Homo sapiens: one gene and its partners. The protein of the gene in region 1 interacts with the protein of each later gene in a pairwise test. Each region holds a gene or a part of one and is shown in the gene's direction. Other genes may lie near its edges. The genes, in order: ARL13B, SEMA4G, ACSF2, FDFT1, MYADML2, PAEP and MMD.

The links.
Region 2: the proteins of ARL13B (region 1) and SEMA4G interact in binary tests that used the Homo sapiens proteins (3 or more experiments, as listed by UniProt).
Region 3: the proteins of ARL13B (region 1) and ACSF2 interact in binary tests that used the Homo sapiens proteins (3 or more experiments, as listed by UniProt).
Region 4: the proteins of ARL13B (region 1) and FDFT1 interact in binary tests that used the Homo sapiens proteins (3 or more experiments, as listed by UniProt).
Region 5: the proteins of ARL13B (region 1) and MYADML2 interact in binary tests that used the Homo sapiens proteins (3 or more experiments, as listed by UniProt).
Region 6: the proteins of ARL13B (region 1) and PAEP interact in binary tests that used the Homo sapiens proteins (3 or more experiments, as listed by UniProt).
Region 7: the proteins of ARL13B (region 1) and MMD interact in binary tests that used the Homo sapiens proteins (3 or more experiments, as listed by UniProt).

Annotation. Positions count from the first base shown.
Region 1 is NC_000003.12:94,032,155-94,035,654, forward strand, and holds part of ARL13B (ADP-ribosylation factor-like protein 13B), read left to right. Parts: intron 1-3,176; coding exon 3,177-3,282; exon of another isoform or gene 3,283-3,287; intron 3,288-3,500. UniProt on the Homo sapiens protein: Cilium-specific protein required to control the microtubule-based, ciliary axoneme structure. May act by maintaining the association between IFT subcomplexes A and B. Binds GTP but is not able to hydrolyze fit; the GTPase activity remains unclear.
Region 2 is NC_000010.11:100,972,504-100,976,003, forward strand, and holds part of SEMA4G (semaphorin-4G isoform 1 precursor), read left to right. Parts: intron 1-25; 5' UTR 26-409; coding exon 410-533; intron 534-625; coding exon 626-774; intron 775-1,043; coding exon 1,044-1,106; intron 1,107-2,481; exon of another isoform or gene 2,482-2,581; intron 2,582-3,500. UniProt on the Homo sapiens protein: Cell surface receptor for PLXNB2. May play a role in axon guidance.
Region 3 is NC_000017.11:50,464,218-50,467,717, forward strand, and holds part of ACSF2 (medium-chain acyl-CoA ligase ACSF2, mitochondrial isoform 2 precursor), read left to right. Parts: coding exon 1-77; intron 78-278; exon of another isoform or gene 279-308; coding exon of another isoform or gene 309-382; exon of another isoform or gene 383-1,080; coding exon of another isoform or gene 1,081-1,222; intron 1,223-1,489; coding exon of another isoform or gene 1,490-1,653; intron 1,654-3,500. Other genes in the region: CHAD (chondroadherin precursor), read right to left, coding at 1,081-1,222, 1,490-1,653. UniProt on the Homo sapiens protein: Acyl-CoA synthases catalyze the initial reaction in fatty acid metabolism, by forming a thioester with CoA. Has some preference toward medium-chain substrates. Plays a role in adipocyte differentiation.
Region 4 is NC_000008.11:11,819,741-11,823,240, forward strand, and holds part of FDFT1 (squalene synthase), read left to right. Parts: intron 1-2,009; coding exon 2,010-2,138; intron 2,139-3,500. UniProt on the Homo sapiens protein: Catalyzes the condensation of 2 farnesyl pyrophosphate (FPP) moieties to form squalene. Proceeds in two distinct steps.
Region 5 is NC_000017.11:81,944,434-81,948,590, reverse strand, and holds the start of MYADML2 (myeloid-associated differentiation marker-like protein 2), read left to right. Parts: upstream 1-1,357; 5' UTR 1,358-1,532; intron 1,533-4,157.
Region 6 is NC_000009.12:135,560,552-135,564,555, forward strand, and holds the start of PAEP (glycodelin isoform 1 precursor), read left to right. Parts: upstream 1-1,204; 5' UTR 1,205-1,250; coding exon 1,251-1,346; intron 1,347-1,742; coding exon 1,743-1,882; intron 1,883-2,268; coding exon 2,269-2,342; intron 2,343-3,692; coding exon 3,693-3,803; intron 3,804-4,004. UniProt on the Homo sapiens protein: Glycoprotein that regulates critical steps during fertilization and also has immunomonomodulatory effects. Four glycoforms, namely glycodelin-S, -A, -F and -C have been identified in reproductive tissues that differ in glycosylation and biological activity.
Region 7 is NC_000017.11:55,415,336-55,418,835, reverse strand, and holds part of MMD (monocyte to macrophage differentiation factor), read left to right. Parts: intron 1-3,500. UniProt on the Homo sapiens protein: Involved in the dynamics of lysosomal membranes associated with microglial activation following brain lesion.

The DNA of each region.
Region 1 (3,500 bases):
CGACCTCTTTATCCTATAGGAGACTAATAACCAAAACTTACAAGGAAATCAACAACAAAAAACAACCCCATTAAAAATGTGCAAAAGACATGAATAGTCATTTTTCAAAAGAAGACATACAGATGGCCAACAAGCATATGAAAAAAATGCTCAATATGCCTAATCAGAGAAATGCAGATTAAAACCACAATGAAATACCATCTCACACCAGTCAGAATTTTTAGCTGTTACTGAAAAGTTAAAACATAGCAGATGTCTGCGAGATTGTGTAGCAAAAGGAATGTTTATACACTCTTGGAATGTAAATTAGTACAATCACTATGGAAAACAGTATGGAGATTTCTTTTTTTTTTTTCTTTTGAGACGGAGTCTCGCTGTGTTGCCCAGGCTGAAGTGTAGTGGCGCGATCTCGGCTCACTGCAAGCTCTGCCTCCCGGGTTCATGCCCTTCTCCTGCCTCAGCCTCCCGAGTAGCTGGGACTACAGGCGCCTGCCACCACGCCCGGCTAGTTTTTTGTATTTTTAGTAGAGATGGGGTTTCACCGTGTTAGCCAGGATGGTCTCGATCTCCTGACCTTGTGATCCGCCCGCCTCGGCCTCCCAAAGTGCTGGGATTACAGGCGTAAGCCACCGTGCCCGGCCAGTATGGAGATTTCTTAAAGACCTAAAAAAAGAACTACCATTCAGTCTAGCAACCTCACTACTGGGTACCTATCCAAAGGAAAAGAAATCATTATACAAGAAAAGATATCTGAACTCAAGATGTTTATCACAGCATTATTCACAGTAGCAAAGGTAGGGAGTCAACCTAAATGTCCTTCAATGGATGATGAAAGAAAATGTTTGTGTGTGTGTTTTGTATATACATACATAAAATGGAATGCTATTCAACTATTTAAAAAAGCATGTTTTTTCCAGCAACGTGGATGGAGCTGGAGGTCATTTTTTAAAGTGAAATAATTCAGAAACAGTCAAATCTAGCGTGTTCTCACAAGTGGAAGTTAAATAATGTGTACACATTGACATGGAGTGTGGATTAATAGACATTGGAGACTTGGACAGGTGGGAGGGTGGAAGGGGAGTTAGAGATGAGAAATTAATACCTACAATGCACATTATTAAGCTTATGGTTACACTGAAAGCCCAGACCTCACCACTATGCAATATATCACCACTATGCAATACATTTACATCACAAAACTGCACTCATAATCCTTAAATTTATAGGATTTTTTTTTTTTAAATCAACCTGATCACCTTCGGAGGTTGCTACGCCATTAATTCATTATTTTGAAAATCAGGAAATAAAGGCAAAGGATCAAACATTTATCTTGACTTTGTGAATTTTAAGAGGCACCAAGTAGTTGGTGAAAGCTTATTTTTAGCAAGAATCCTGCTAGTAAATGCAGAAGGAATATGGAACTATAAAGTTACTGTTTCATAAACTTTGGTAAAATAATAGAATTAAGTAAAGGTCATCAATGGCTGCTAAAATCATTAAGTGAAAGATTAATGAGGAACTTTATTTTGGATGGATCAGGCTAAATGTAAATCCATTAGTTAATTTTATACCACCAAAATAGGACATTATATAAAAGTGATATTATATGCCTCCCTAAATACAAGCACCACCTACGAAGTATGCTTGCCAAAAAGATTTCATCTGAAACTCATCCAGCTTCTTACCACCAGATACGGGAAATATAGGATAGGTATGTTAAATAAGTTTATAAGGAAGATATTAGCCAAATCCCAAACATGGGAATTCTAAAGAAAAATTACAAATGTCATGGGAGGAAAAGAGTCATGGGGGTGGTAGTGGGGAGGGCAGGTATAATATAGATTCAAAAAGAGTTAAGTGATAAGTAACGTATATTGGACCTGAATTTAAACATAACACTTGTAAAATGATATTGGAGAATATTGAGTAAATTGAGTAATATTGAAGACTTACTGTTAATTTTGTTAGGTGTGATAGTGGTATCATGGTAATGATTTTTTAATATCTGGGTGAAGTAATGTGATTCAGGCAGCAAAATAGAAGGTATGTAGATTTTAATGGTAACTTGGGAAATACAAAAAAAAAGAAGGTATATAGATAAGCAAGAATGACACAGTTTTGATAATTTTTAAAGATAGGTGGGAAGGGTTCGTTAGATTTCTTAGTCTATGTACTTAATTTTTTTTTTAACCTAAAGAGTCTGTCAAACTTTGAGCAAGGCAGTATTTTATTAAACTTTTAAATCTATGTTATATAATTAAATAGTGGTAAATTGTGGTAAATCCTGTTTTTCTGTAGAATATATTGGTTTTCCATTTTGTTGGTGTCCAGTTTGTCTCTAATTGAGTACAATTTTTTTTTTTTTTTTAATTCCCAGTGCTTTGCCAAGTATATTAGAAGTGGCCTTGGGTCTTCAGTAAATTGCACATTTATGTGGACACATTCACACATTAGAATTGTAGATGAGCTCAAATATTAAAAGTTCAGAATGAATATTTGGGCATTTAAAACATTACAGTTTGTATTTTAAGAAGATAAGAATATAATTTATGGATGTGACCTGTGGAAATTAGTCCTCTTATTTTTCTGTTTTGTAGCTTTTTCTGTTTTGTTGGCATATTGATCTCTTGTTTATGTTTTCTTGACACTTTATTTGATTTTCCTTTTATAGGCCAGTACTTAAAAACTATTTTAGCAATAATAAGGGAAAAATGACAAAATTGATGCTACAACATTTTAAGATACTAGTGTGTTCTGTAATCAGTACATTTAAAACTTGGGAATCAAAGAATGTGGTCAGGCCAGGCATGGTGGATGATATCTGTAATCCCAGCACTTTGAGAGGCTGAGACTGACAGATCACTTGAGGTCAGGAGTTCAAGACCAGCCTGGCCAACATGGCGAAACCCAGTCTCTACTGAAAATACAAAAAATTAGCCTCGCGTGGTGGCACACAACTGTAGTCCCAGCTACTCTGGAGGCTGAGGCAGGAGAATCACTTGAACCTGGGAGGCGGAGGTTGCAGTGAGCTGAGATTGCACCACTGTACTCCAGCCTGGGAAACAGAGCAAGACTCAGTCTCAAAAAAAAAAAAAAAAAAGAATGTGGTCAAAATATCTTTAAGTTTCCATCCAATTATATATATGCTGTATAAAAGTACTTTAATTATCTTTCAGGTTGGCAAATAAACAAGATAAAGAAGGAGCTTTAGGAGAAGCTGATGTCATTGAATGTCTATCTCTGGAAAAATTGGTCAATGAGCACAAGTGCCTGTGTCAGATAGTAAGGTTTTTTTTTTTTTTTTAATTTTAATTTTTTGTCCTTTCAAATAGGTTCAGTATAACTTGGTTTTTATAAAAGTGATAGCAATTAAAAGGCAATGTTTTCAAAGAATTTTTTGTAACCTATGAAATCACATTCCCATTTTTCTGTTGATATAACTTAATACCATAATATTTGTTGTCTATTTCATTGTTATTTCCATGAACTATCTTTCCATG
Region 2 (3,500 bases), on another chromosome or scaffold:
TTTTTTTTCCCCGTTTTTTCTTCAGAAAACGGACCTCAGAAAACCAGGACTAGCTCTACTGTCGGGGGCAGGGTGACCCCATCAGTAACCTACAACCCCTCTAGAACTTCACAACTCCCTCTCACCATGGAGTTTGCATTTGATGCAGAAAGGCATGTGATCCCTCCCTCCTTCTGACCTCTTAGCTGGGGATTCCATGGCCACACAACCCTGTGACTCCATGTCCCCCCGATTCCAGGACCCCCCATGGCCCCATGATTCCTTGACTCCTATGACCTTATGACCCCTGACCTTCCAAGTGACTTCCTTGGACTTTGACCCCTGTGACTGTGCTTCCCATTCCCCGCCCCCACAACCTGTGACTCTGGCTCCCTTTGGGGGTCTTGTTAGTCTGGGCCTCCCCAGGAAGATGTGGGGGAGGCTCTGGCCCCTCCTCCTCAGCATCCTCACAGCAACTGCAGTCCCAGGACCCTCACTGCGGAGACCGTCTAGAGAACTAGATGCCACCCCTCGGATGACCATACCCTATGAAGGTTAGACCCTCAACCTCAAAAGGCAGCAGAAGCCAGGGCTGGGGGTGGGGAGGCACCCCAGAACTAGGGCTCACTGTTCCTGCTCTCCCCAGAGCTCTCTGGGACCCGGCACTTCAAGGGCCAAGCCCAGAACTACTCAACACTGCTGCTGGAGGAGGCCTCAGCAAGGCTGCTGGTGGGAGCCCGAGGTGCCCTGTTCTCTCTCAGTGCCAACGACATAGGAGATGGGGCTCACAAAGAGGTCAGGCCCTGGAACCTGGACCACCCAGAGGGTCTCTATGCTTATCCAGCTCCCTGGGACCTCAACTTCCTTAAAACCCTGCCAGCCTTCCATAGCCCCCTGGTCAGACAGCACTGCCCTTCCCAGCCCAGGTGTTCCTTGCATTCAGTGTTCCTCCTGAAATTGATCCCCACCCCAATTTCCCCAACTCTGTGGGGTCCTATTGCCTGGTCCTATGAGTAATAGGTATTGGGGTCAGTGCATCAGCCTATTCCCTTTGCCTCCACTAGATCCACTGGGAAGCCTCCCCAGAGATGCAAAGCAAATGTCATCAAAAAGGGAAAAACAACCAGGTATGTGGTCTGCCCTGTCCCCAGCTCCTTTCCTCCCCTTCTTCCTCAATCAGGGATGCCAGGATTGTTGGGGACACAGATGGGTAGGTACAGACCTGCCAGTCAATCTCAGCAACCACAGTAAACATTGTAAGTATTGCCAGAGTGGCAAGCCATGGGCACAGCATTTTTTTTTTTTTCTTTTTTTGAGGTCGGATCTCACTCTGTCATCCAGGTTGGAGTACAGTGACATGATCATAGCTCCCTGTGGCCTTAAACTCCTGGGCTCAGGGGATCCTTCCACTTCAGCCTCCTGAGTAGCTAGGACCACGGGCACATGCCACGCCCAGCTAAGTGTTTTATTTTTTGTAGAAACAGGGTCTTGCTATGTTGCCCAGGCTGGTCTTGAACTCCTGGCCTCAAGCAGTCCCCCTACCTTAGCCTCCCAAAGTGCTGGGATTACAGATGTAAGCCATTGCCCCCGGCATCTGGGCACAGTACTTCTAATTCAACCATCTGGTGGCCTACTAGTTTGTCCCGCAGTGGCATCTTCATCTCCTCTGGGATCCCAAATAATCAAAATGGCAATAAGTAGGCTGAACGCGGTGGCTCACATCTGTAATCCCAACACTTTGGGAGGCTGAGGGTAGGAGGACAACTTGAGTCCAGGAGTTCAAGATCAGCCTTGGCAACACAGCGAGATCTGTCTACAAAAAAAATACAAAAATTAGCCAAGTATGCTGGCGTGCACCTGTAGTCCCAGCTACTTGGGAAGCTGAGTGGGAGTATCACTTGGGCCTGGGAGGTTGAGGCTGCGTGAGCTATAATTAAGCCACACATTCCAGCCTGGATGACAGAGCAAAACCCTGTCTCAAAAAAACAAACCAACAAAAAACAGTAAGTAACCTCTACAGATGCTTACTTACGATGGGTTACTTACCAATAAAACCATCATAATAAATTGAACCATTGTTAAGTCAGCAACTATCTACAGCAAGTGATGATTTAGCTATTATCTCAGTTAATTCTAAAATAACCCTATGAAATAGTATTATCCTGCATTTTGCAGATGAGAAAAATGAGTCTTTGGTCAAGGAATAGGTCAAATACCCAGTATTCCATGGACAGGCATTAATGAAGCATCAGCCCTTTCCAGCTAAAGAATAGGGTGTCTCCAGGGGTCCCATGTCTGGCTAGGTAATGGCTCCATCTGGAGAGCTTTTACAAAATAAACGGCCCTGGGCTGGGCATGGTGGGTCACACTTGTAATCTCAACACTTTGGGAGGCCAAGGCAGGAGGATCACTTGAGCCCAGGAGTTCGAGGCCAGCCTGGACAATATAATGAGACTCTATCTCTAATAAAAAATAATTAAAAAAAAATTCCCAAGATCCACTGGGCCAAGGTGGGCCAGGGGTGGTGTTGGGACAGCTCCGTTTAAAAAGGCATCTCCAAGAGCTTCCATCAAAGGCTGCCTCTTGGTGCAGCACAGGTAGAAAATGGGGCTGGGGAGGCAGATGGAACCAGGTCATGGAAGGCCACAGATGCCCAGCTGGGAGTTTGGGTTTTATTCTGTGACAGTGAACACCCTCAGAATTTGATACTTTAGAGGCTCTAACTTTAATGTATCACCCAGGTATATTATAAATGCAGATGCTAAACTTAGTAGGTCTGGGGAAGGGCCCAAGAGTCTGCAATTCTAACAAGCTCCCAAGTGAAGTTGATGCTGCTGGTCCCCAGACCACACTTTGGATAGCAAGGCTTTATAGAACAGTTCCCAAAGCATGTTCTGAGGAACATTAATTTTCAAAGGAGGGGTTTAAATGTCAAATGAGTTTGGGAAACACTACATGCCCAGTCCCACAATGCACAGCAACATCCTTCAGGCTCTAGGAAGTAAGCCCAGTAAAGATAGGTTTCACCTGTGGTTTCCAAAGTTATTTGACCAGAGAATTCCTCCCTACCCCCCTTTAAAAAATGTAAACATCCGCTGGGCACGGTGGCTCAGGCCTGTAATCCCAGCACCTTGGGAGGCCGAGGCGGGTGGATCATGAGGTCAAGAGATCGAGACCAGCCTGGCCAACATGGTGAAACCCTGTGTCTACTAAAAATACAAAAATTAGCCCGGCATGGTGATGCACATCCATGCGAGTAGTAGTCCCAGTCACATCACCATGGTGTTGAGAGTAGTAGTCCCAGCTACTCGGGAGGCTGAGGCAGGAGAATCTCTTGAACCCGGGAGGCGGAGGTTGCAGTGAGCTGAGATCATGCACTGCACTCCAACCTAGCGGCAGAGCAAGACTCCGTCTCAAAAAAAATAAAATTAAAAAAATAAATAAACATCTTGGGGAAACATCACTTTAGGAATATTTATCTGGCCCCAGGCACTGGATGGATGAAAATAGGGTGAGTCTGG
Region 3 (3,500 bases), on another chromosome or scaffold:
GTGTCATTGCTGGGTCCCCTGCACCTCCAGAGTTGATCCGAGCCATCATCAACAAGATAAATATGAAGGACCTGGTGGTGAGTGGTGACTGCGGCCCGGGCTGTGGGCAGGCCAGGCCTGGGATGACAGCAGATGGACAGACATGGGGATGAGTCCAGGCCAGATGTTCAAAGGAGACCCTCTCAGCCAGCCCTCCTTCCAGAAAGCAGATGTGAGAAAAGATAGTCTGACCTCATCAGCACCTGGTGGGTGAAGGAGATAGGTGGCAGGGGAGTAAATATAATACATACATACATTTATATTTATAGAAATCTCAGGAAGAAATTGCAGCATGGGAAGATGGACAGCAAAGCACCGATGTCCTGCTAGAACGTCCTGGCAGGTGGGGGCTGGCAGAGTTGGGGCATGGGCTTTAAAACCCTTTCTGGAAGCAAGGGGTGGGGCAAGGATCTGATGATTGTTTCCACGTGGCAGGGAAAGAGGAACAGAGGAAGGATGATCCTGGGAGGGTGGCCATCCTGATGACCAACCTGTTGTGGTTCTGATTGACTTGGGGGGGGGGTCTCAGCAACAGCTTCTCCAAGAGGAGCTGGAGGGTGGGGAAGGCATGAAGGCTGGGGAGAGGCTCAGCCTTCCTTCTCCCCAGGACACTGCTGGGTGGAGCTGGGTTGGTAGTGGAGTGCCCGAGGCCCCCTGCCAGGACGTGTCTAGGTGTAGGCAGCTCTGTGCATCAGCAGAGGCTGTGGGGAGAAGGTATGGGTGGAGGTGAGAAGGTCAGTAGTCTCTCCGGTGGAAGGCAGAGGCCAGTCACCAGGACTGGCTGGGTCAGAACCTGCAAAGAGGCAAAGATCGATGTCAGTACTCCAACAACACAGATGATGCTTGAAGAAAATGGTGGAAGTCCTGGGCAGGACCTTTTCCTCCCTTCAACAGGGGACCCAGTCGTCCCCTCCTCTCTCTGTAAAAATGGAGGGTCTGCCTGACCCTCCAGGGCCAGGGGGTATCCTGGAAGATACCAGCTCACTTGCTGGAATCACCAAAGAGGGACATAGGGGACCTGTTTACCTGGCCCCCACCTGTTTAATGGCGGCCAGCTTTCTTGGACCTCTTGGTGGGGAACTTGCAGCTGCGGAAGGCGTCCGTGTCACGGATGTGCTGGCCCTTGAACTTGGCAGGTGAGGCACAGGTGGCATCTGGGCGGGAGGCCTTGGCTTCCAGCCACCTGGAGAGACAGAAACTTGCTGGGGCTGGGGAAGAAGGTGGGAGTGCTGGGGGGAAGGGCAGTGAACTATGGGGCCAGGATTGACTTGGCCACAGGATAGTCTGAAGCTGTCATCTTCATTTTACAAATGGGGAAACTGAGGCTCCCAGGGTCCCATGCTTATTAGGTAGCAGATCTAGGATGCATGTCCAACATGTCTTAGTGCAGGGCTAATGTGCCTCTATCACATGAGGGTGGGCTCTGGGAGTGACATGGAAGTGTTCTTACCGCCGAAGGCCCCGGAGCTGGCAGGTACACTTCCAGGGGTTATTGGTAAGGGCGAGGGTCTCCAGGCTGTCGAAGGGGAAGTTGGAGGGTAGCTGGTTCAAGCGGTTGTTCTCCAAATGGACGTGTTTCAGCGTGGTTACACCCAGGAAGGCACCATCTGAGAACTGGGGAGCAAGGTGGGAGCAAGGTGGGAGCAAGGTGGTCATGAGTGAATGAGTAAGCACCCGAGTGCCAGAGGGGCAGGATCCTTCCCTGAACCTGAGCCATAGCACTTTGAGGAGTTTCCCAGTTTTCAAAGCAGTATGACCAAGTGATCTCAGATAATCCAATCTACACAACCCCCTTTGAGACAGATGGTGTTATTTTCTTTTTTTTTTTTTTTTCCTTTTTTTTTTTTTGAGATGGAGTCTCACTGTGTTGCCCAGGCTGGAGCACAGTGGCACGATCTCAGCTCACTGCAAGCTCCGCCTCCCGGGTTCACGCCATTCTCCGGCCTCAGCCTCCTGAGTAGCTGGGACTACAAGTGCCCGCCACCATGCCCGGCTAATTTTTTTGTATTTTTTTAGTAGAGACGCAGTTTCACCATGTTAGCCAGGATGGTCTCGATCTCCTGACCTCGTGATCTACCCGCCTCAGCCTCCCAAAGTGCTGGGATTACAGGCGTGAGCCACCACGCCCAGCCAGGTGGTGTTATTTTCAATATGCAAATGGGGAAACGGAAAAAGCGCAGTCCTTTGCCCTGGGTCACAGCAGTGGGTAAACAGTAGCCACAGGACCACACCCAGCTCCTCTTCCCCTGGCACCACAATCCCTGCACAAACACTGGGACTGTGGGGCTGCCAGAGTTTGGCCCCAGCAATCCAAACTGGTACACGGTGAACTTGGTCTGTGCTTGGTGGAGTGGGCAGTGGGCCCAGGCTCCCCACAGTCCCAGGGTCCCAGGACTTCCCTCAGCTCTGTCCTCACTGCTCCCCCACTGCCAGCCAGACGCTATTTGTGAAGCCACCTTGGTGGAGCCTTTGGCCAGGTTGGACGGCTCCAGAGGAAATGTTCTATTGGTGCCCACACCTTTGCCCAGGCGCCACAATTCCTGTCTGGCCTCCCCTGCCCCAAACCAGCCCCTAATTCGCTGCTCTGCTGCCCACTGAAAGACCACTCTGGCACTGGTGGGCCACAGGGGACTCCAACTTCAGCTGGGGAGAGGCAGGGCTGAAGAAGGGCAGGCTTGAGCAGGCTCCTTCCACCCAGACAAAGGTTGGCTGCTGCCCAAGTGAGATTCTGCCCACATCTCCACACCCGCACCCTTTCCTGTGGCCCACATTGAGGTATGAAGGTCTCCAGTAACCAGACTCTCCTCTACCTTGTTGGTTCCCCACCCAAACCTCCTGGCTGAAGCCCCTGTACCAGGGTGATTTTTCCAGTCCCAGAGAAGGGATTCTGCTCTGATCCAAGGTAGCCCCACCTGGCCAGACACTGGGCACCCCAGGGGAGAAAGGAATGAGTGAGGATGCAGACAGGAGATGGGTCTAGTGACGGAGGAGGGCAAAGGGCAGTTAGCAGTCTGGAGACAGTGAGTCACGCCAGTCTTCTCTGTGGAGAGACACCTGGGGTCTTGGGCCAAGGATTGACAATAGTGGTCTTGCCTTTGCCCCTTCACGGAGCCCATGGGCACGATGCTTGCATCCTGGGGGAGCCCTTGGTCCCACGCCTACTGAGCTGCAATGGACTTGAGAATGCAGTGAATTGTGTCTGTGTGGATTGGGCAGGGCCATCCACCAGGGCCTCTATGGGGCATGGAGAATGTCTTCCTCAGGCATTTGCTTCCCCTCACTCCCCAGTCCCCCACTCCCCCTTAGCACACATGCACAGCCCCCACCAGGAACAGGGTCTCTTTGTGGGCCTGATCTGCCCAGCTCCTCTGGAAGGCTCCTCAATAAACAAACCTTCCTTTATGGGGTGGTAGGTTTACTGGAGACGGGAAAAACAGCAGAGGAGGGGTGGAAGGCCCAAC
Region 4 (3,500 bases), on another chromosome or scaffold:
TTGTCCAACCTTTTCTCAAGGTTTTAAGTTTCCTTGCGATCGGTCAGAACGTGCTGCTTTAGCTTGGAGAAGTTTGTTATTACCAACCTTCTGAAGCCTACTTCTGTCAACTCGTTAAACTCATTGTCCATCCAGTTTTGTTCCTTTGCTGGTGAGGAGTTACGTTCCTTTGGAGGAGAAGAGGCGTTCTGTTTTTGGAATTTTCAGCCTTTCTGCTGTGGTTTCTCCCCATCTTTGTGGTTTTATCTACCTTTGGTCTTTGATTTTGGTGACGTACAGATGGGTTTTGGTGTGGGTGTCCTTTTTGTTGATATTGATCCTATTCCTTTGTTTGTTAGTTTTCCTTCTAACAGAGGCCCGTCAGCTGCAGGTCTGTTGGAGTTGCTGGAGGTCCACTCTAGACCCTGTTTACCTGGGTATCACCAGTGGAGGCTGCAGAACAGCAAATATCGCGGCCTGATCCTTCCTCTGGAAGCTTCGTCCAAGAAGGACACCCACCTATATGAGGTGTCTGTCGGCCCCTACTGGGAGGTGTCTCCTCCCAGTCAGGCTACATGGGGCTCAGGGACCCACTTGAGGAGGCAGTCTGTCCGTTACTGGAGTTCAAATGCCGAGCTGGGAGAACCACTGCTCTCTTCAGAGCTGTCAGGCAGGGATGTTTAAATCTGCAGAAGCCGTCTGCTGCCTTTTGTTTAGATATGCCCTGCCCCCAGAGATGCAATCTAGAGAGGCAGTAGGCCTTGCTGAGCTGCGGTGGGCTCCACCCAGTTCAAGCTTCCTTGCTGCTTTGTTTACACTGTGAGCATAGAAGTGCGTACTGAAGCCTCAGCAATGGCGGGGAGGCGCTTCCCCTCACCAAGCTCCAGCATCCCAGCTTGATCTCAGACTGCTTGGCTAGCAGCAAGCAAGGTTCCATGGGCATGGGACCCCCCGAGCCAGGCACTGGAGGCAATCACCTGCTCTGCCAGTTGCGAAGACTGGGAAAAGCACAGTATTTGGGCAGAGTATACTGTTCCTCCAGGTACAGTCACTCACGCCTTTCCTTGGCTAGGAAAGGGAAATCCCCTGACCCCTTGCACTTCCTGGATGAGGTGACGTCCTGCCCTGCTTTGGCTCACCCTCCATGGGCTGCACCCACTGTCCAACCAGTGCCAGTGAGATGAACCAGGTACCTCAGTTGGAAATGCAGAAATCACCCATCTTCTGCATCGATCTTGCTGGGAGCTGTAGACCAGAGCTGTTCCTACTGGGACATCTTGGAAGCAACTCTGGGTCTGAGTTTCTGTTTGTTGCCCTGATGTATATCCCCAGTGCCTAGAATGATACTTGTTACATAGGAAGTGCTTGATCCATGTTTGCACAAATGAATCTTTCTCATAATGAGGTTTCTCTAAACAAGCTGTTCTCCCAAAAACTTAAACCCAGCTTTATGTTGAAGCATCTCATTATACATTGGAAAGATGAAATGTGTAGTGAGACTTTGAATCTTCTTTTGAATCTAGAAACATTAGCATTTTTAGACCATTCTATTTTAATATTTATGAAATTTATGAAATAATAAGAAACATGAGGCCGGGCTCAGTGGCTTATGCCTGTAATCCCAGCAGTTTGGGAGGCCAGGGCTAGTGGATCATGAGGTCAGGAATTTGAGACCAGCTTGGCCAACATGGTGAAACCCCACTTCTACTAAAAATATAAAAATTAGCTGGGCGTGGTGGTGCATGCCTGTAATGCCAGCTCCTGGAGAGGCTGAGGCAGGAGAATCATTTGAACCTGGGAGGCGGAGTTTGCAGTGAGCTGAGATCGTGCCATTGCACTCCAGCCTGGGCAACATTGCGAGACTCCATCTCAAAAACAAAAACAAAAACAAAAAAAATGTGTGACCTAAATTAGGCTTATAGATGAACCATTGCAGTCATGATTAATTCCGCCATTGTTTGCCTTGTGATCTTTGGTGCCATGTCTGTACATATTTCATGATTTCTGTGTTTTTACGGTTTCCATTTCAGATCTCCCTTGAGTTTAGAAATCTGGCTGAGAAATACCAAACAGTGATTGCCGACATTTGCCGGAGAATGGGCATTGGGATGGCAGAGTTTTTGGATAAGCATGTGACCTCTGAACAGGAGTGGGACAAGGTTAGTCTCATAAAACAGTGTCTGTGTGTGATGTATTAGACAGAGCTGGCAGTCCTCATAGTGAAGCTCAGAACAAGAAAAGTTGTCCAGTATTTTCAGCCCCTCTGGTTTTACAATTCATCTGTTTAGGTTGAATGTCTCATCATAAACAGTTTATTCCAGAGTTAATTCCAAACCAGCAGCTATGTAGGATATCAGCCAGGCTAGGAGTAGGGTACTGGAGAGAAGTGCTTATCTAGACAAAGGGATGTAATTGACCATGAAGATTAAAACTACACATCAAAACATAAGGTAGGGTTAGGAGTCTTGCCTATTTTTCATAGGAATGGTGTTTGTGAGACTTACTCATCACTTCTGTGGAAGTAAAGACATTTTATTTATTTATTTTAAAGCCAGTCAGATTTAGCAGGCAGAGACATTTCAGACATCTAAAGTGTTGATGTATTTCATACCTTTAACTGTGCTTAAATTAGGATCTCCGAAAAGATGCTGCTACATGGTCACTACGTTAGTGTAGGTCCAAGGTCTTGGGCCTCTTAATTTTTCAAACCTCAAAACTTGACAGCAGTTATCTTTGGAACTGCTGATTTGTGCTTCCTAAGTTAACAGCATACAATGACTGCTAGAAATCAATTTCTGCATTTAAGGTGAAGTTAGCCGGGTACTATGGTTTACCTGTAATCTCAGCACTTTGGGAGGCTGAGGTGGGAGGATCATTTGAGCCCAGGAGTTAGACACAAGCCTAAGCAACATAGCGAGACCCCGTCTTTCAAAAAATTAAAAAATGAGCAGGGAATTGGTGGCATGTGCCTGTGGTCCCAGCTACTCTGGAGGCTGAGGTGTGGGAGGATTGCTTGAGCCCAAGAGTTGAAGGTTGCAGTGAGCCATGATTGTGCCACTGCACTCCAACGTGGGTGACAGAGCAAGACACCATCTGAAAGAAAATAAAGTTGAAGTTAAAACTTCTGGCCAAGAACCAGCACTGGTTATGATAGTAACTCATTTTCTGTTGTGCAGATTTATTCAGGAAACTTAATTTTAGGTTGTTGAATAGAAGTTTTGATCAGATAAAATTGAATTAAAAAAAATTTTTTTTGAGACAGGGTCTTGCTGTTATCCAGGCTGGTGTGTAGTGGTGTGATCACGGCTCCCCGCAGCCTCAACCTCCTGGGCTCAGGTGATCCTCCCACCTCAGCCTACCGAGTAGCTGTAACTACAGTGCATGACACCATACCAGGCTCATTTTTGTACATTTTTTGTAGAGAGAGGGTTTTGCCATGTTGCCCAGGCTAGTCTCAAACTCCTGGCATCAAACAGTCCTCCCACTCTGGCCTCTCAAATGTTGGGATTACAGGCATGACC
Region 5 (4,157 bases), on another chromosome or scaffold:
TTTGTGCCGAAAGAGAAAGAGGCGCAGCTCACCTAATGGTCAATCGGTCAATCGCTGCCATGCTGTCCTGCAGGACCAGGGACAAAACGAGCCCTAGGACACGAAGAGGACGCTGGCCTGTAGCTCCGCAGTGACGGTGACCCCAGGCTGTCCTGCAGGACCAGGGACAAAACGAGCCCTAGGACACGAAGAGGACGCTGGCCTGTAGCTCCGCAGTGACGGTGACCCCAGGCTGTCCTGCAGGACCAGGAACAAAACGAGCCCTAGGACACGAAGAGGACGCTGGCCTGTAGCTCTGCAGTGATGGTCACCCCAGCTTGTCCACGCTGACTTCTCACCTTTCCCAGGACGGTTGGCGCCTTTCATTCTCTGGGGCGAAAACAGTCAGGACATTCATCCAACACTGAGCCGTGTCTCTTCCAGCAGCGATGGCCAAGGCATAGCCTTTGCTATTCAGGGACTGAAAGCAGGGAACTTCCACTGTGTGACAACATTACAAATTTAAACTCTGTACTTAAAAAAAGAAAGCCAGCTGGGCGTGGTGGCTCACGCCTGTAATCCCAGCACTTTGGGAGGCCGAGGCAGGTGAATCACGAGGTCAGGAGATTGAAACCAGCCTGACCAACATGGTGAAACTCTGTCTCTACTACAAATAGAAAAATTAGCTGGGTGTGGTGCTGCGTGCCTGTAATTCCAGCTACCCAGGAGGCTGAGGCAAGAGAATCTCTTGAACCCAGGAGGCGGAGATTGCAGTGAGCTGAGATCATGCCACTGCACTCCAGCCTGGGCAACAGAGCGAGACCCCATCTTCAATAAATAAATAAGTAAAAATAAAAATATTTGTTAACGTTTGTGAATGTATACCACAGCAGCAACAAGCGTGCCTGGCCCCCATGTCTTGGTCTCTGATGCCATTCCCCCAACACAAGGAACCAGGTTCCTGGGAGACACGGCTGACTCCAGGGCTGGGCTGGTGTCTGAGACAGGAAAAAAAAACAGTGTTTTCCCTGCTCTCACACACTCAACAGTCAACATCCAACATGGAATACTTCATCTCTGGTCACCAAAATGTGTGTGGGGATTTTCCCCAAACACCAAGCAAGTCTCCAGTGGACACCTACTAGGCATCCTCCAACCCTGCTCCAGCGAGTCTCCGCAGGCACCCACTGGGTGTCCTCCAACCCTGTTCCATCCAGTCTCCGCGGACACCCGCTGGGCGTCCTCCAACCCGGTTCCATCCAGTCTCCGCGGACACCCGCTGGGCGTCCTCCAACCCTGTTCCATTGTGACGCTTTCTCCCTGGAGACAGTACCCGATCCTGCAGGCTAAGGTCTCAGTCCCACAAGAGTGTCCTCCACTTCAGATGCCAGTCCCAAGTACAGCTGTCCCTTTGTATCCTTGGGGGATGGGATCCAGTACCTCCAAAACACCAGAATCCACAAGGCCAGAGTCCCTGATACAAAATGGCATGTTATTTGCATATAACCCCCTCCTCTGGACTTAAATCACCTCTTGATTACTTATAACACCTGGTATGTAAATTCTATGTAAACAGTTGTTACATAGTATTGCTTTTTAAATTTGTATTATTTGTATTATTATTACTATTATTTTGAGATGGAGTCTCCCTCTGTCACCCAGGCTGAAGTATAGTGGCATGATCTTGGCTCACTGCAATCTCCGCCTCCCAGGTTCAAGCAAGTCTCCTGCCTCAGCCTCTGGAGTAGCTGGGATTACAGTCACATACCACCAGGCCTGGCTAATTTCTGTTATTTTTAGTAGAGACGGGATTTCACCATGTTGGTTGGTCAGGCTGGTCTCAAACTCCTGACTTCAGGTGATCCACCCACCTCCGCCTCCCAACAGTGCTGGATGTACAGGCATGAGCCACTGCGCCTGGCCTTATTTATTGTTTTATTTATTTATTTTTTGTATTTTCTTTTGAGACGGAGTCTTGCTCTGTTGCCCAGGCTGGAGTGCAGTGGCGCGATCTCGGCTCACTGCAAGCTCTGCCTCCCGGGTTCACGCCATTCTCCTGTCTCAGCCTCCCGAGTAGCTGGGACTACCAGCGCCCACTGCCACACCTGGCTAATTTTTTGTATTTTTAGTAGAGACGGGGTTTCACCACGTTGGCCAGGATGGTCTCGATCTCCTGACCTTGTGATCCGCCCGCCTCAGCCTCCCAAAGTGCTGGGATTACAGGCATGAGCCACCGCGCCCGGCCTTTTCTTCTTTTCGAGACTGAGTCTTGCTCTGTCGCCAGGCTACAGTGCAGTGGCACGATCTCGGCTGACTGCAACCTCTGCCTTCCGGGTTCAAGCGATTCTCCTGCCTCAGCCTCCCAAGTAGCTGGGACTACAGGCACCCACCACCACGCCCGGCTAATTTTTGTATTTTTAGTAGAAATGGGGTTTCACCATGTTGGCCTGGCTGGTCTCAAACTCCTGACCTCAGGTGATCTGCCTGCCTCAGCCTCTCAACGTGCTGGGATTACAGGCGTGACCCACCGCGCCGGGCCAGTATTTTTTGTATTTTCAGTCTGAGGTTTGTTGAATACTTGGGTGTGGAACCTGAGGACAGATGACCAAATGTAGCAGGTGTCACCCGCCCTCTGGCCAACCGAGGTTCCCATGGCCCCTCCTCCAGTTTTGTGACTTTGCTGGAGTGGCTCACAGAACTCAGGGAAGCACTTTCCTCATTTTATTATTTATTGATTTACTTTTGGAGATGGGGTTTCATTGTGTTGCCCGGGCTGGAGTGTGACGGCATAATCACAGTTCACTGCACCCTCAACCTCCTGGGATTAAGCAGTCCTCCCACCTCAACCTCCCAAGTAGCTGGGATTACGGATGTGCACCACCACGCCCAACTCATTTTTTTTTTTTTTTTGAGATGGAGTCTCACTCCGTTGCCCAGGCTGGAGTGCAGTGGTGCAATCTCAGCTCACGGCAACCTCGGTCTCCTGGGTTCAAGCGATTCTCCTACCTCAGCCTCCCCAGTAACTGAGATTACAGGCATGTGCCACTACACTTAGCCAATTTTTTTTTTTTTTGAGACAGAGTCTTGCTCTGTTGCCCAGGCTGGAGTGCAGTGGCACTATCTTGGCTCACTGCAAGCTCTGCCTCCCGGGTTCACGCCATTCTCCTGCCTCAGCCTCCTGAGTAGCTGGGACTACAGGCGCCCATCACCACGCCTGGATAATTTTTTGTATTTTTAGTAGAGATGGGGTTTCACTGTGTTAGCCAGGATGGTCTCGATCTCCTGACCTCGTGATCCGCCCACCTTGGCCTCCCAAAGTGCTGGGATTACAGGTGTGAGCCACCGCACCCAGCCAATTGTTTTTTTTTTTTTAAATATAGACAGAGTTTTACCATGTTGGCCAGGCTGGTCTCAAACCCCTGACCTTAAATGATCTACCTGCCTCGGCCTCCCAAAGTGCTGAGATGACAGGCGTGACCTACTGCGCCCAGCCAATTTTCGTATTTTTTGTAGAGATGGGGTCTCACTATGTTGGCCAGGCTGGTCTGGAACTCCTGAGCTCAAGTGATCTGCCTGCCTCAGCCTCCCAAAGCGCTGGGATGACAGGCGTCAGCCACCGAGCTCCGCCAACACTTTATTTATGTTTCCCCATGTGTGACAAAGGACCCAGATGAACAGCAGATAGAGGCAATGCTGTTCATCTGGAGGCCTCTCCAGGGAGCTTCCAGGACCCTCCAAGCATTCCGCCACCTGGAAACCTCCCAACCCTGTCCTTTTGGGTTTTATGGAGACTTCATTACGTAGGCATGACTGATTACATCATTGGTCACTGGTGATCAGCTCAGCCTTCAGCCCCTGTCCCTCCTGGAGGCTGCAAGTGGGGCTAGAAGCTCTGCCCTTCTGATCACATAGTAGCTGCCACCAACCCCCCACCCCAAGGCTGTCCAGGAGCCCACCAGGAGTCGCCTCATTAGAACAAAAGACGCTCCTGTCACCCAGGAAATTCAAGGGGATTGGGAGCCCCATGTCAGATGATCCTATGGGTTAGGAGATTATAAAGGTTTTAGGAGCTCTATGTCAGGAACCGGGGTCAAAGACCAAATACCACAATAAAAGACTCCTCCTGCCTCTGTCTGAAAGGGTCTTAGAAGTTCTGTCTCAGAAACCCAGGGCAGAGA
Region 6 (4,004 bases), on another chromosome or scaffold:
CATGTCTATAGCTACCTACAAAATATCTTGCTGAGAATTTGATAGGAATTGCATTAAATCTCTAGGTTGAGTTGAGGAGAGCTAACACCTTTGCTGTGTTGAAGCTTCCAGCCCATGAACACATTGTGCCTGTCCTTTACCTTAGGTCTTTGATTTCCCTTCCTTGGGTTCAGAGTTTAAGTCCTGTCCATATTTGGTGAGATTTTTGCCTACATGCTGTGTGTGTGATTACAAATCCTGAATTTCCAGTTTCGGGTTCTGTCTACTCCTTGACACTGTGTGGGAACACGGTGGATTTTTGTGCGATTGACCTTGCTGACCTCACTCGGTTCTAGGAGGGGTTTTGTAGAGTTCTTGCAATTTTGTACCTGGGCAATGATGTTATATGCGAATAGAGACAGGTATACCTCCCCCTTCCCAATCTGCCTGCCTTTAGTTACCATTTCTTGCCTAGCTGCTCTGGCCGGAATGACCTGCTCTGATGGATGGGGGAGTGGGAGTGGACACCCGTGTCTTGCCTCAGGACTCAAGTGCTCTCCAGGGAGTGAGATGCGGGCTCGATTGTAAGTTACAAAGTGATGCTTCCCTGTGGGAAAAAGTACATCCAATATAGACTGTAGGACAAAGTCTGAAAGTCCACTGCCTCCCATTTCCACCCAGTCTTGCCTGTGAGTCAGAGAGAAACAGTGCTAACAGGCAGTGTGCACCTGTCCAGAGGCTGGCTGTTTGAGGGACACAGGTGTGCACACCTGGGGATGTCTGAGTGGAAGGTACAGGTCAGGATTATGACCGTGCAGTCAGTCACCCACTGGCATGATGTCTGTGGCATCCTGGGGCAGCCATGGGGCTCTCAGGCCCTCTGCCTGCCCCACAGGCCATACCCCTGCCCTGGACACAGCTGTCCTCAGTGCTGGCCTCTGACCCAACATTGTCCAGGAGCCCCAACCCAGAAGGTGCTCCCGCCGCTGCCAGCCTGGACCCGACCCAGGCCCCTCCCGCCTGAGGCCCTGCCAAGAACTGCCCAGCCCGGACACAGAGGAGGTTCCCGCGTGGACGCAGGGAAGAGCCTCCCATTGCCCCAGTGGAGGAAGCTGCCCAGGGGCCAAGGATGAGTCACAGGTTCGAGGAATCACATGGCGAGGCTGTGGGCGGGGATCTTGTCTGCCCTCCTCCTACATAAGGCCCCCTGAGCCCACACTGCCTCAGCATCCCTCTGGCTCCAGAGCTCAGAGCCACCCACAGCCGCAGCCATGCTGTGCCTCCTGCTCACCCTGGGCGTGGCCCTGGTCTGTGGTGTCCCGGCCATGGACATCCCCCAGACCAAGCAGGACCTGGAGCTCCCAAAGGTTTGAGGCTGGGGGAGCGGGCACTTTACTGTGGGAGGCCTGGGGCGGGTGGGAGCTGCGGGCAGGCAGGAAGCCCAGGATCTCAGAAACCTACAGGAAGCACAGAATGGACGCCATGACGTCAGGAAGCCCTCAGCCCTGCTCTCCATCTTTAGGGTGGCCTCTCTGGTTTCCCAGCATCCTAGGTGACTCATTATTTGGACTTTGGAACACTCCTGAGTTAGCACACACTGGTCATTTTAAGTACAGGAAATTTCATAGCCCAGGATCTGGTAGATAGCAGACAACCATCCAATGCTCACTGTACCCATCCCAGTTAGACTCAGCCCCGTCTGCACCGGGTGCAACGAGAGCCATGGTGGGGTGGGACCGCCGTGCAGCCCAAGGCCCCCTCAGTTGGCAGGGACCTGGCACTCCATGGCCATGGCGACCAACAACATCTCCCTCATGGCGACACTGAAGGCCCCTCTGAGGGTCCACATCACCTCACTGTTGCCCACCCCCGAGGACAACCTGGAGATCGTTCTGCACAGATGGTGGGTTTCTCATCATTGAGACGGGCTGGGCGGGGGCTCAGTCTCCCCCCTCAGGGGTCCAGGACTGGGTGGGTTGGGCGGAGCTGGACTTAGCCCCAGGCATTTTCTGACAGCCAGGGGCTTCACTGTGGCCCTTCCATGAGGGTGGGGTGGAAAACCAGGGCTCCAGACGTTCCCTGTCCCCTTGGATCCCCTGCCCCAGGCTCTGGGCCAACAGCCAACCACACAGTGCAGCCCCAGGTCAGACTGAGGAGAAGGTCTGGGCGGCTGCGGGCTGCGGTGCTCCTTGGACCCGGGGAAGTTCCCGTGGTGACCTGATTTTAGGAGTGACAGTGAAGGCAACTCCAATTCAAGTGGCCACTCATCCTATTGTCACCACCTTTCAGGGAGAACAACAGCTGTGTTGAGAAGAAGGTCCTTGGAGAGAAGACTGAGAATCCAAAGAAGTTCAAGATCAACTGTGAGTGTCCCCAGGCCCCAAGGGCTGGCTCAGTGCTGGCATGCTAGCCACGCTCTCCCAGAGGCGGCTCTGCTGGGGCATGAGGGAGTGGGGCCTGGCCTGTCCCCACTCTCTCTGCTTCAGGGAGTCAGAGTGTTTACTCCGGTCAACCTGATGCTGACCCCAGAGGCATCTTTTACCTGGAGGGCAGGGGAAGCACTAATTCTTGGCATGACATGACTGGATGTGGGTCTGCACTGTGCCCAGGCACAGGGGACAGGTGCTTTGTTGCACTGTTCACTCTGGCCTCACAAAAGGCCAGGGAGGCTGCAGGCGAGCAGGTGGGCAGGTGGGCAGGTGGGTAGGTGGGTAGGTGGATATGTATACAGGTGGGCAGGAGGGTAGGTGAACAGGTGGGTAGGTGGGCAGGTGGCTAGGTGAGTAAGTGGTTAGGTGAACAGGTGGGCAGGTGAGCAGGTGGTTAGGTGAACAGGTGGGCAGGTGGGTAGGTGGGTAGGTATACAGGTGGACAGGTGGGTAGGTGGACAGGTGGGCAGGTGAGTAGGTGAACAGGTGGGTGGGTGAACAGGTGGCCAGGTGAACAAGTTGGTAGGTGGGCAGGTGGGTAGGTGAACAGGTGGGCAGGTGGGCAGGTGGGCAGGTGGGCAGGTGGGCAAGTGGCTGCTGTTCCCGTGGGCCTGGCTGCCTCCTGCGCACTCTGGGGCTGCAGCTCTGGTCTTAGGCTGAGCTCCCAGGCCTCTCTGGGGGAAGAGAGAGGGGCTTACAGCATGTCCTTGGTCCACTGAATTCTTCCTAACAATTTGCAACATTTTGTTCTATTTTGTTAATTATTATTTTTTTAAAAAGACAGAGGTGGTCAGGGTCTGGGGCCTCTTATCCCCTCATGGGCACATTTTCCCAGCAAATACAGTTTGCTTCTCATGCTTGGGACTTGCCTCAGGCCTTTCTGACCCTGCTTGCCCTCCCCAGAATCGAGCCACTCTCCAAGGTCCATTTCTTCTCCCTCTTCCCGCCCCTGTGCCCTGTTCCTGTGCCATCTCCCGCCATCCTCACCCGTACGTGACTTCTCAGTTGGAGTCTCTCCAGGTCACAGCCTCCCTGCCTGCCGTGTCTGCCTCTCCACGGCACACCTGGCCTCTCCCCCTCAGCCGGGGCTCCATGGCCCTCCACATTGCCTCTCCTCCCCTTTCCTCCCTGGCTTCCCTGATCATGGTCCACAGCAGGGGCCACGTCCCATGGTGTCAGTGGATGAGGAAGCCACTTAGTGTGGTGGGATGTCCACACACCTGCACAGGACTCTGCTGAGACGGAGGCTTCATCTTCCTTTTGGTTCTTCTCTTCTTTCCCCAGATACGGTGGCGAACGAGGCCACGCTGCTCGATACTGACTACGACAATTTCCTGTTTCTCTGCCTACAGGACACCACCACCCCCATCCAGAGCATGATGTGCCAGTACCTGGGTGGGTCTCACAGCACATGAGCTCAACGTGGGTGAGAGGCAGCAGCTACGTCCGTGGCTGGGAACCCTGGGGAGCTGACAACTGGCTTCCTGTCCACCTCGGTGCCTGTGGGCTGACTTTTTTTTTCTTGGTTTTTTTTATTTGTTTGTTGTTTGCTTTGTTTTTTTGAGAAAGGGTCTCATTCTGTCACTCAGGCTGGAG
Region 7 (3,500 bases), on another chromosome or scaffold:
TAGCTTCAAAACTGGATATGTGGGAAAGCATTTTAATCTACAGTATTAGAAGTCTTACAGGGCTACCTATTGTCTTTTTTCCCATGTTCTTAAAGCACTAAATCATAGGCATGGGGTAGTCTCCTTATATATGCCATCTTCCTTTATTTAATAATTAAGTCAAGATTGGCACTATTGACAGTAGACACTTTTCCTGAACAAATATGCTCAGTCATAAAGGGGAGCTAATAGTAAGAGGGGTCCACTTATACGTTGCAACATAAATGATGTTGAAGGGGCCCTTGGAATATCCGTTGTCTTGGATTTTAAGTGTTTTTGTGTGTGTGTGAGATTCGGGGTTCTCTTGGTTCCAAGGCTGCCTGTTTCTCTTACTTACAGAACCTGCTGTGTCCACAGTAAAACTAATTGACTATGGGATATCTTTGTTAAGACAAAATAGTTCAGCAGTAGCTGGAATGTCTTTCTATTCATTCAACAATTATTAAGCTCTAGCAATAAGCTGGGCATTGTACTTCAGTTTGGTAATGGAAAGGTGAACAAGACAGCCTTCATGGAATTCACACTACAGTGGGAAAAGATGAAATAAAAAATAAGCTAAAACAAATCAAAGTCTTACCAATTGTGACATAGGGCTCTGGTTGGATGGGGAGGGTTGAAATGATACTTCAGTTAGGATAGTCTGGAAAACCTCTCTTGAGGAGGTGACATCTGAGCTGAGCTGAAAGGATGAGAAGAGAGCTGAGCATTCTGGAGAATATCCTAGACAGAAGTAAACAGCAAGTACACATGCCCAGAGGCAGACACAACCTTGATGTGTTTAAGGAGCAGAAAGGAGGTGGTATAGCCAGAGGATGGAGAGAGAGAAAGATGCCACCCTGAGACTGGAGGGGTAGTGAGGCCCAGACCACTCAGGGCTTGTGGGCCTCTGAACACTGTGTTACAGTGCTATCGTAAGCACTTTGGGAAGCCAGAGGCAGACTTTAAGCTGGGATTGGGGTGTGTGATGTGATCTGGGTTTTTTGTTGTTGTTTGTTTTTGAGACAGGGTCTTGTTCTGTCACCCAGACTGGAGTGCAGTGGTGCCATCACAACTCACTGTTGCAGCCTTGACCTCCGAGGCTCAAGCAGTCCTTCTACCTCAGTCAGAAGTAGCTGGGGCTACAGGCATACACTACCACACCTGGCTAATTTTTACATTTTTTTTTGTGTGTAGAGATGGGATCTCACTATACCGCCTAGGCTGGTCTTAAACTCTTGGGCTCAAGCAACCTCCCGCCTCAGCTCCCCAAAAGTGCTGGGATTACAGGTGTGAGCCACCATGCCCAGCCCCTCATCTGTTTCTAATGGAAAACTGTAGCTGCTATGTAAAGAAGAGAGTCTGTACTGGGTCAAGCAGGAAGACTAGTTAAGAGACTTTGTATTTGTACAGACCTGAGATGTTAGGTCTTTATTTAAGGTAGGAGACGCGGAGCTGGGATTACAGGTGCACACCACCACACCAGGCTAATTTTTGTATTTTTGTAGAGATGGAGTTTCTCTATGTTGGCCAGGCTGGTCTTGAACTCCTGACCTCAAGTGATGAGGTGGACTTATTTGAAATATATTTTGAAGGTAGTGTTGATGGTACTTGCACTCGGAGAATGAGGAACACTTGTGGGATTTGATCTACTGAGATCAGCCTCTGAGATCTGCTGGTGGGTTGCAGATCTACTCAGTGGGCACAGTGCTTTAGGTTGAATTTAAAGTGTGTTAGTGTGCTAAGGAGTGTTCCCAGGTCTCTGATCTGTTCTTTCCCTCCATGGTTTTGAAATTCTGTCATGGCATGGGAGAGGGGTATGGGGGAAGGAGGAGGTGATAAGAACGTTGGGCAAGGGGGAAGGCAGGAGAGTTTTGAAAGAGAAAGTGAAGGAATGAGTAAAAAAACTCTGCCTAACTAGTAGCTTTATTAAGTGCAGCTCCCACTCCCAGGACTGAATCACCTTCCTTCAAACCCTCTAGAGCTTGTTGGTTACTCAAGCATTGAGTAACCATTAGGGCCACTCCGCTTTAAATAGAGATGTCTTCCATAAATGGATGCTGTTTTCCATAACCAGCACTTGAACCTTTCCCATTCTTTTTTCGGGGAAGAGATGAAGGCCAGAGTGTGGGAGTTGATTTACATTTTACATCTGCTTTTCCATTTAGGTTTTAGGAGTGATTTCTTCAGGAGGCTGTGGAGGAGGCTTGATTGCACCCTGGCAGGTTAGAGAGAAATGGGAAAATTGTATTGTACTTTCCCAGCAGAACAATTATGCTGTCTATCCTACTGAGCCCCAGATTTAGAGAATTGCTTCCAGGATAGTTACCCTTATCTTTCCCTATTGCCCGTGTCTTACCCTGTGCATCAGGATAGAGTGCCTTAAGTCACCATGGGTGGGATATTTTTCTGTATAACTTTCTACTTTTATTTTTTAATGTGAATTATTCCAGGTGATCAGGGACTAAGCTGTCACAAACATGGCCATCCAGTTTATTTGTTTTTAGGAGAAAATGTGAAAGTCTATCCCTGTTGCTGGGTAATGGCTTGACTATTTTTAGATTGGGCTGCCAGAGATATAAATTGCTATTTTAGTCTGCAGCCTGGTGGTGGGTAGACAAATCCTACTTACTGCACCCTACACAGAGCACATTCAATTTCATCTAACTACAGCCATCTTGGGGCCTTGCTCTTTAGCCTTGAAAATTCCTAATAGGGTATGCTACTTATAGCTCTGTTGTTATGTCTCAGGACAATGATGTGGTATATCCTCCAATTCTTGGGACACTTTTAAAGCATTCTTCCCAAGAGTGTAATTATTTTCTTTTTTGCTAATAAGAGCTGTATAGCAACACTCTTGTCTCTTAGGAAATTAGTAAAATTATTTAAAATATTATCAGGGGAGAAAAGATGATGCTTAATAATAGTTAACTATATTTGAGAATAGCTTGGATAAATTTTGAAGCTACTAACTGTATATTTCTCTTTAACAGTTGGTTTTCAAACCATCTGGTAGATTATACTCAGTAAGTACATATTTTGTACACTAGTTAAATATCTTAACCCATCAGTGGGCCAAGTGAAATATCTTCACTGTCCCAAATTCATTCCCCAGTGGATTTTCCACCTGAACTATCTGTATTGTGTTAATAGTGGCTGCCACTTTATTTTTATTTATTTGATCTAACGATAACAGGCTCTTCCTAACTCAGGGAAAGAGTATTGGCTGGTCTTTTATTAATAAACTTGGCACTCTCTAAAATGGCTTGGTCATGCGTTTTAGCCAATTTTTGGCAACTTGGTTCTACCATTTGGTTCAGCCCTGTACCATTTTTTATTTTGTGTATGAATAAGGTAATGAGTAGTTAGAACTCATTAGTGGCACAAAATACCAACCCCCAACCCCCATTCACACTTCTTTAAACTAGCTTGAGCAAAAGGATTATTTATTGTGCAAAGCCTGTTGACGTCTTACAGACTCTTAA